2 separate regions of the Homo sapiens genome follow, and region 1 is linked to region 2. Evidence: fine-mapped expression QTL. A gene starts in region 2. The other region holds a variant in brackets. All regions are shown on one strand. Distances are between the middles of the regions.

Region 1 (4,378 bases), 32 kb after region 2:
TGCTTTTTTTTTTTTTTTTTTTTGAGATGGAGTCTCGCTCTGTCACCCAGGCTGGAATGCAGTGGCGCTATCTTGGCTCACTGCAACCTCCACCTTCCGGGTTCACGCCGCCATTCTCCTGCCTCAGCCTCCCGAGTAGCTGGGAATACAGGCACCTGCCACCACGCCTGGCTAATTTTTGTATTTTTATTGGAGACGAGGTTTCACCATGTTGGCCGGGGTCGTGCATTTTTGCCAGGAAACCTGTGAAAGTGGCGCTGTGCCCTCCTTAGTTCCTCACATCAAGGGCCTATGATGCCACATTGTTCCATTTTTGTGAAATTTGGTCACTTTGTTAAGGTGGTGTTTGCCCCAATCCCTTCACTGAAGAGATACTATTTTCCTCTTTGGGATTAATCAGTAATCTGTGGTGAGAATCTTTGAACCTGTGTCAATAACTCCCTTTTCAGACTTTTACCCAATTCAGAGACAATTGGTGCTTGAATAAATTATGGTAATGGCAAAATGGTGATTTTCTTTTTTTCTTTTTTTTTTTTTTTTTTTTGAGATGGGGTCTTGCTCTGTTGCCCTGGCTGGAGTGCAGTGGCACGATCTCGGCCCACTGCAACCTCCACCTCCCGGGTTCAAGCGATTCTCCTGCCTCAGCCTCCTGAGTAGCTGGGACTACAGGTGCCCACCACCACGCCCGGCAAATTTTTTTTTTTTTTTTTGAGACAGAGTCTCACTGTGTCACCCAGGCTGGAGTGCAGTGGTGGGATCTTGGCTCACTGCAAGCTCCGCCTCCCGGGTTCACGCCATTCTCCTGCCTCAGCCTCCTGAGCAGCTGGGACTACAGGCGCCCACCACCACACCTGGCTAATTTTTTTTGTATTTTTAGTAGAGACGGGGTTTCACCGTGTTAGCCAGGATGGTCTTGATCTCCTGACCTCGTGATCCGCCCGCCTCGGCCTCCCAAAGTGCTGGGATTACAGGCGTGAGCCACCCTGCCTGGCCAATTTTTTGTATTTTTATTAGAGACAGGGTTTCGCCGTGTTAGCCAGGATGGTCTTGATCTCCTGACTTTGTGATCTGCCTGCCTCGGCCTCCCAAAGTGCTGGGATTACAGGTATGAGCCACCACGCCTGGCCATCTCTTCCCATTCTTAATGGCATTTTTTCCTACTCAGAACACAGCATTAACATATTATTTTTCTGTCCTTGCCCCACCTGTTTTTTCCTAAGTCTCAGCTCGCAATTGACTATTTGTTGTGCTCCCATCCATCCTGGTGACAGCTGTTCCCAGCCACCGCCTGTTTGGATAGAGCTTGCCTCCTGAGAGACGCTTAGGAGAGGCCCTCGGTGGTGTTTCCTAGACTTCTGAATACTTGATACTTTTCTCTGTAGCCTTGATAATTGAAGGAGAACTTGCCCATTAATCCCTTGACTTGCATTTCCTTTGCTTGAGTTTCTTAAACACACTCCAGCATTGTCTGTTGGGCACACACTGGGTCTCCTGCCTTTTAACTGCTTTTGTAAAAATTGTGATAAAATTTATGTAACATAAAATGCATGATTTTAGCCACTTTAAGTGTGCAATTTAGTGCAGGGACCAGCCCCACAGGGTCAGTGGGCTTCTCCCTGTGTGCGGCGACGAGAGAGTGTAGAAATAAAGACACAAGACAGAGATAAAAGAAAAGACAGCTGGGCCCGGGGGACCACTACCACCAATGTGCAGAGACCGGTAGTGGCCCCGAATGTTTGGCTGCACTGTTATTTATTGGATACAAAGCAAAAGGGGCAGGGTAAAGAGTGTGAGTCATCTCCAATGATAGGTAAGGTCACGTGGGTCACGTGTCCACTGGACAGGGGGCCCTTCCCTGCTTGGCAGCCGAGGCAGAGAGGGAGAGGAGAGAGAGAGAAAGACAGCTTACGCTATTATTTCTGCATACCAGAGACTTTTAGTACTTTCACTAATTGACTACTGCTATCTAGAAGGCAGAGCCAGGTGTACAGGATGGAACATGAAGGCGGACAAGGAGCGTGACCACTGAAGCACAGCATCACGGGGAGACGGTTAGGCCTCCGGATAACTGCGGGCAGGTCTGACTGATGTCAGGCCCTCCACAAGAGGTGGAGGAGCAGAGTTTTCTCTAAACTCCCCCGGGGAAAGGGAGACTCCCTTTCCAGGTCTGCTAAGTAGCGGGTGTTTTTCCTTCACATTTTTCGCTACCGCTAGACCATGGTCCGCCTGGCAACGGGCGTCTTCCCAGATGCTGGCGTCACCGCTAGACCAAGGAGCCCTCTGGTGGCCCTGTCCAGGCATAACAGAAGGCTCGCACTCTTGTCTTCTGGTCACACCTCACTATGTCCCCTCAGCTCCTATCTCTGTATGGCCTGGTTTTTCCTAGGTTATGATTGTAGAGCGAGGATTATTATAATATTGGGATAAAGAGTAATTACTACCAACTAATGATTAATGATATTCATATATAATCATTATCTAAGATCTATATCTGGTATAACTATTCTTGTTTTATATTTTATTTTACTGGAACAGCTC[A/G]TGTCCTCGGTCTCTTGCCTCGGTGCCTGGGTGGCTTGCCGCCCACAATTTAGTGGTATTAAAGACATTCAAGGCCGGGCGCAGTGTCTCACGCCTGTAATCCCAGCACTTTGGGAGGCTGAGGCGGGCGGATCACCTGAGGTCGGGCGCCTGTAGTCCCAGCTACTTGGGAGGCTGAGTCAGGAGAATCGGTTGAACCTGGGAGGCGGAGGTTGCAGTGAGCCGAGATCACGCCACTGCGCTCCAGCCTGGCGACAGTGACACTCCGTCTCAAAAAAAATAAAAAATAAAAGAAGACATTCAAAATACTGTGCAATCATCACTGCTACTTATTTTCAAAACTTTTCTATCACCCCAAACATCCCTCCCCCAGCCTCTATAACCTCCGTTTACTCTGTCTATGGGGATTTGCCTTTTCTAGATATTTCATGGAAGTAGAATCGTGTGTCTTTTTATATCCGGCTTCTTTACATAGCTTAACGTTTTCAAGGTTCACCCCTGTTGGAGCATGTGTCAGAATTCTCTTTTTAAGAAGGTAATGATGGACCACATTCTGTCTGTTCATCCTCTGATGGACATTTGGGTTGTTTTCACCTTTTGGCTATGGTGAGTTTTTAGTTTTTTTTTTAAAGAGAGGGTCTTGTGTCCTGTCACCCAGGTGGGAGCGCAGTGGTGGAGTCAGAGCTCACTGCAGCCCGGACCACCTGGACACAAGCAGTCCTCCTGCCTCAACTCAGTCCTCAGTGTCGGGATTACAGGCTTGAGCCACTGCATCCAGCCTTCAGTTCTTAAAGTTGAAGAGGTGAACTAAGACAGGTCTGAGAGTTCAACATTCCAGGCCAGTTTTGTCAGGTACTCTGTATAGGCCTTTTTTTCTTTTTCTTTCTTTTTTGAGACGGAGTCTTGCTCTGTCTCCCAGGCTGGAATACAATGGCACAATCTCAGCTCACTGCAACTCCCACCTTCCGGGTTCAAGCAACTCTCCTGCTGCAGCCTCCGGAGTAGCTGGGATTACAGGTGTGTGCCACCACGCCTGGCTAATTTTTGTATTTTTTAGTAGAGACGAGGTTTTACCATGTTGGTCAGGCTGGTCTTGAACTCCTGACCTCAGGTGATCAACCCGCCTCGGCCTCCCAAAGTGTTAGGATTACAGGCGTGAGCCGCTGTGCTCGGCTGGCCTTTTTCATAACTTTATTTATGTATTTTTTTGAGACAGAGTCTTGCTCTGTCGCCCAGGCTGGAGTGCAGTGGGGTGATCTCAGCTTACTGCAACCTCCACCTCACAGGTTCAGGGGATTCTCCTGCCTCAGGCTCCTGTGTAGCTGGGACTACAGGCATGCGCCATCATGCCTGGCTAATTTTTGTGCTTTTAGTAGAGATGGGGTTTCACCATGTTTCCCAGGCTGCTCTCAAACTCCTGCCCTCATGTGATCCACCTGCCTCGGCCTCCCAAAGTGCTGGAATTACAGGCGTGAGCCACTGCACCCAGCCTGTATCTTTAATTTAAACAATTTTTTTTTTTTGAGACAGAGTCTTGCTCTTTCACCCAGGCTGGAGTGCAGTGGCACGATCTTGGCTCATGCAACCTCCACCTCCCACGTTCAAGCAATTATGCTGCCTCAGCCTCCCGAGTAGCTGGTACTACAGGTGCATGCCACCACACCCAGCTAGTTTTTGTATTTTTAATAGACACGGGGTTTCACCATGTTGACCAGGATGGTCTCGATCTCTTGACCTTGTGATCCACCCGCCTTGGCTTCCCAAAGTGCTGGGATTACAGGTGTGAGCCACCGCGCCCGGCCTAATTTTAAAACAATTTGTATTGTCTGGGTGCGGTGGC
Region 2 (4,378 bases):
AGGGATGGGGGAGTCAAGGGCTTCTTTTTAAGGTGCCTGCCCCTGGGAGAGGGAAGCTGCAGTGAGAGGAAGCACCGCCCCAGCGTTACATAATTCCACCCTCGCAGGACACAGAGGCAGGGGTGCCACATTCATACTTGGGTAGAATGTGTAGATAAAGCAGCCGGCTTGTGGTGGACCAGGTATGAGTTCCCAAGCCAGCTGGGCACTGCCCGCAGCACTGCGCTGTGTCAACACCTGCAGGTCTTTCTCGGCTTTGGAGCCAAGAAGTCACCTTGCCAGGAACAGCCTCCAACCAATGACTGCAAGGTGAGAGGTGAATGCTGGGTCCCCTTGCAGCAGGGTGAAGGGTGAATGCCTTGGCTCCCCTGGCCCTCGGGGAGGGACTCTGAGGATGGTTCCTACACAAGCGCCTGCTACAGTAACTGGACTGGTAGCACCCCCTTCCCTGCCTCACACCCCTACTCTCCTGCTGGTGTCTCCTGGGGTCTTCTCTCAAGCTAACAATTTGGACTTTTTTTTTTTTTTGACGGAGTTTCACTCTGTTGCCCAGACTGGAGTGTGGTGGCACAATCTTGGCTCACTGCAACCTCTGCCTCCTGGGTTCACGCGATGTTCCTGCCTCAGCCTCCCAAGTAGCTGGGAATACAAGTGTGTGCCACCACATCCGCTAATTTTTGTATTTTTAGTAGAAACGGGATTTCACCCTGTTGGCCAAGCTGGTCTTGAACTCCTGACCTCAGGTGATCCACTTGCCTCGGCCTCCCAAAGTGCTGGGATTACAGGTATGAGCCACCAGGCCCGGACAAAATTTGGACTCGAATCCATTTCAAGTCAACCTCTGGGGGAACCTGGACTATGACACCAGTGCTTTTCAACTACCCTAGGGAGCACCCACCAAGCTCCACTTCTTTTCACAAAGCAGTTGCTCATAATCTCATCACACCCTTGCAACTCCATGAGGTTGAGATTGGTAGGGCAGGTACTTTTTTTTTTTTTTTTGAGACGGAGTCTCGCTCTGTCGCCCAACCTGGAGTGCAGTGGCACGATCTCGGCTCACTGCAAGCTCTGCCTCCCGGGTTCAAGCCATTCTCTTGCCTCAGCCTCCCAAGTAGCTGGGACTACAGGCACCCGCCACCACGCCCGGCTTTTTTTTTTGTATTTTTAGTAGAGGTGGGGTTTCACCGTGTTAGCCAGGATGGTCTCCAGCTCCTGACCTCGTGATCTGCCCGCCTCGGCCTCCCAAAGTGCTAGGATTACAGGCATGAGCCACCGCGCGCGGTCGGACAGGCATGTTTTGAGCAAGGCCCAGCCTGAACCCCAATGTGTGTCTCAGGCAGGCCAGGACTCATCAGCCCCTTCAGTCCTCTAGGGTGTCTGGGGTACTGGCAAGTACCAGGGGACCCAGAGATGGAACGTCTGGGCTCACTCATGTACACCCTTTGCAGGCTGGGGCACGGTGGCTCATGCCTGTAATCCCAGCACTTTGGGAGGCCGAGGTGGGCCGATCACCTCAGGTTGGGAGTTCGAGACCATCCTGGCCAATATGGAAAAACCTCACTTCTACTAAAAATACAAAAATTAGCCGGACATGGTGGCGCGTGCCTGTAGTCCCAGCTACTCGGGAGGCTGAGGCAGGAGAGTCGCTTGAACCCGAGAGGCAGAGGCTGCAGTGAGCCGAGATCGTGCCACTGCACTCTAGCCTGGGTGACAGAGCAAAACTCTGACTCAAAAAAAAAAAAAAAAAAAGCAAGAAAAGAAAACGGAACCCAGCAAGCCAGAAAGGAGCCTGTGCAGCTCCTCAGGTGCAGGAGTCGCCCTTGAGGCAGGGTGAGGCCTCCTCACGGGCGACTGGACACCGGCGGAGCAGGACGCAGGACCTAGCCCCGTTCGCTCCAGGCTGCAGGGGAGCCACGCTGCCCACCACGGCGTACCCAGTCCCTCCCTGAGCGGGTCTCGGCTTTCCCGCGGAGCCTAATGGGCCTCACTGGAGTTCCGTTTCCAGACGCCTTGGACCAGGCTGCTCTGGAGGTCAGCCGCCCCCGAGGCTGAAGAGCCGGCGGCTCGGAGAAGGCTGCGCGGGAGGCCGCGCCCTCCGGGTCGCGTGGGCCGGGCGTCCGCTGTCTCTCCAGAAACACCCGCGTCCCGCGGCAACGGCCTCTTCCTAGCCCGCCTCGCCCGCTCCCCGCCCGCCCAGAGGGCCCCGCACGAGCTCCGTCCACCTCCTCCTTCCGCGCTCGGGGCCAGGACGGCGGCGGGAAACAGCTTACGGAGGCTACCGCAAGGGAGGCGAAAAGCAGCCAGCTCGCAGAGCTCCACGGACCCGGCGCGAGTCCCCAGCCACACTCCGCACTGCCCCTCTAGGCGCGGCGCCGCTGCCCGCACAAAGCTTCCCGCGAAACTGACGTCGGCGCGCGCAGGCACCGCCCCCGGCCTCGCCCCTCCCCCGCGCTCGCCCCGCTCCCCAGAGCGCCGGCGCACTCGCCCTCCTCCTATTGGTTGTTGCGGGGCGGCGCGCGCCGGTCGGCGCCGTGCGCGCCTAGCCATTGGCCGAGCGGCGGCGGGCCGGGGGGTGTGTCCGGGGCTGCGCCCCGCCCCTCCGCTCCGCTCGCTGTGGTGCGCGCGGTGGCGGTGGCGGCGGCGGCGGCGGCGCGTGGCAGGTCCGGCGGGCGCGAGGCGGCGGCGGAGGCCCGAGCCCGGCCCAGCCTCGTCCCGCCCGGAGCCCGCCTGGCTGCTACCCCGACCCCGGCTCCGGTCCCGTCCTGTCCCGGCGCGCCGCGGCCTCGCCCCGGCCCCCGCTCGGCGCCTCCCGAGGGAGCGGCGCTGCCGGCCGAGAGCGCAGGCCCGGCCATGACCGACTTCAAATTGGGTATCGTGCGGCTCGGCCGGGTGGCCGGGAAGGTGAGCGGCGCGGAGCCCGCGACCCGGCCCGTCTCGCCCGTCCAGGCCTCCGCGCGGGGCCGGGGGCGGTTGTGCGGGCGGCGGCCGGGGCGGGGGCGCGGAGCCCGGGATGGGCCCCAGCGGGGCGGGGGACGCTGCGCGGGCCCGGCTGCTGGCCCCGCGCGGGTGCAGCTTCCTCTCGCAGGCCGGCGGGCACGCACCCCTCGGCTCTGGGGTGCACCTGGCCACCCTCGGCCCTGCCCTGCCGGAGGTGGAGGCCACGGCCCTGTCCCGAGCCGGGTGCGGAGATGCGTGGCTCGAGCCCGAGCCGCGTTCTCCCGGAGCCCTCCCAGTGGTGTCGGCGATCCGGGGCCTAGCGCGGCGTCCGGGCTGCCAGTGCGGCCACACGGTTTAAACACAGCGCCCTTTCCGAGGCAGCGCCACTTCCACACCTCTCGCCGAGGCGGGTCTGGTGTGGGCTCTTCTGTGCCTCCCAGTTCTCAGCAGGGCTTCAGGCTCGTTTTAACGCTGCCAGGGGTTGGCCACGTTAGGCTGAGCCTCAGACTCGGAGCAGAGAGGAAGAAGCCTGGGCCCTGATGCTGCAGACTCAGGGCCTTCCTCGACTTCTCTTCTTACTTGGCCCCCACGCTCCACGTTTGAGGCTGGGGATTCCATGGCACCTGTGGGCATTGAGGCTTGGCGGTTTCTCGGAGCCACCTGTGCAGCTGCACCAGCCAGGGTCCTTACCCGGATGGGAGCCCTGTTCCCGTCACCAGCGGCTGCGGCTTTTGGTGGGAGAGAGGAGCCGAGGCAGTGTCAGGCGGCGTCAGGTAAAACAGGTTCAGATCCCAGAAGAAAAACTGCCAAGAGGGAGACTGGCCCGTTCTGGGACCTGTTCCTGTTTCCTGCCCCTGCTGCAAGAGCATAGGCAGGGCCTGCTGGGGAGGAGGCTTTTTTCCACCAGGGAAGGGTGGGCTCTCCAGTCAGGTCGGAGACCAGAGACCCCTTCTAACTCCACCCATGATGGCATTGTCATCCCTTACAGCTTTTCTTTGGAACATTTCAGATGGACAAAAAGCTAAAAAGGGTAATCAGTGAGTAGCTCAGCTTAATAAACACACCCTAATCAAAACCTTCTGGCTCTTCTGCCTCAGCCCCGGCCCCTCCCTCAGCTCAGTGAAACAGTCTTTGCCTAGGTTTATTGGTGCGTTGAATGTTCAGTGCCACTGTTGGGGTTAGCCCTGCGAGGATGAAGCCTGATACCAGCTCCTCTGGCGCAGACTAAAGTGGGCAGCTGGCTTTTAACCTGTCTGCCTGTGTTTTGTCGTAGACTGCACCACCCCAAACGGTGGAATGAGGCCCCCATGTGCTGAGCTGTCTTGGTCTGAAGAGGCCTGTAGTTACTTTCCACTTCACAGGAAAATGCAACAGGCTCCTGCCTGTTCTGGTTATAAGGTTACTGCACCTCACGCAGATCCCAAATGTAATGATTTGAAAC

The links. PIP is the estimated chance that this variant, and not a neighbour inherited with it, causes the effect.
Region 1: its variant is the best candidate, but not a certain one, in a credible set for the expression of ZMYND19 in fibroblasts (GTEx, PIP 0.55).

What each region holds. Positions count from the first base shown.
Region 1 is chr9:137,557,188-137,561,565 of GRCh38, reverse strand. The region is part of intron 8 of DPH7 (diphthamide biosynthesis 7); the gene reads left to right. Among named protein-coding and RNA genes, the nearest start is that of MRPL41, 7.5 kb to the right of the region's middle. The variant A/G (reference allele first, on the strand shown) is at 2,539.
Region 2 is chr9:137,588,736-137,593,113 of GRCh38, reverse strand. It overlaps ZMYND19 (zinc finger MYND-type containing 19), which reads left to right and starts at 2,602. Exons shown (of 6, transcript NM_138462.3): 1 at 2,602-2,901. The coding sequence starts at 2,851. It overlaps LOC124902318 (a long non-coding RNA gene), which reads left to right. Exons shown (of 3, transcript XR_007061885.1): 2 at 244-309; 3 at 2,006-2,075. RefSeq lists silencers at 2,057-2,126, 2,317-2,706, 2,987-3,096, 3,147-3,196 and enhancers at 3,467-3,516, 4,039-4,378.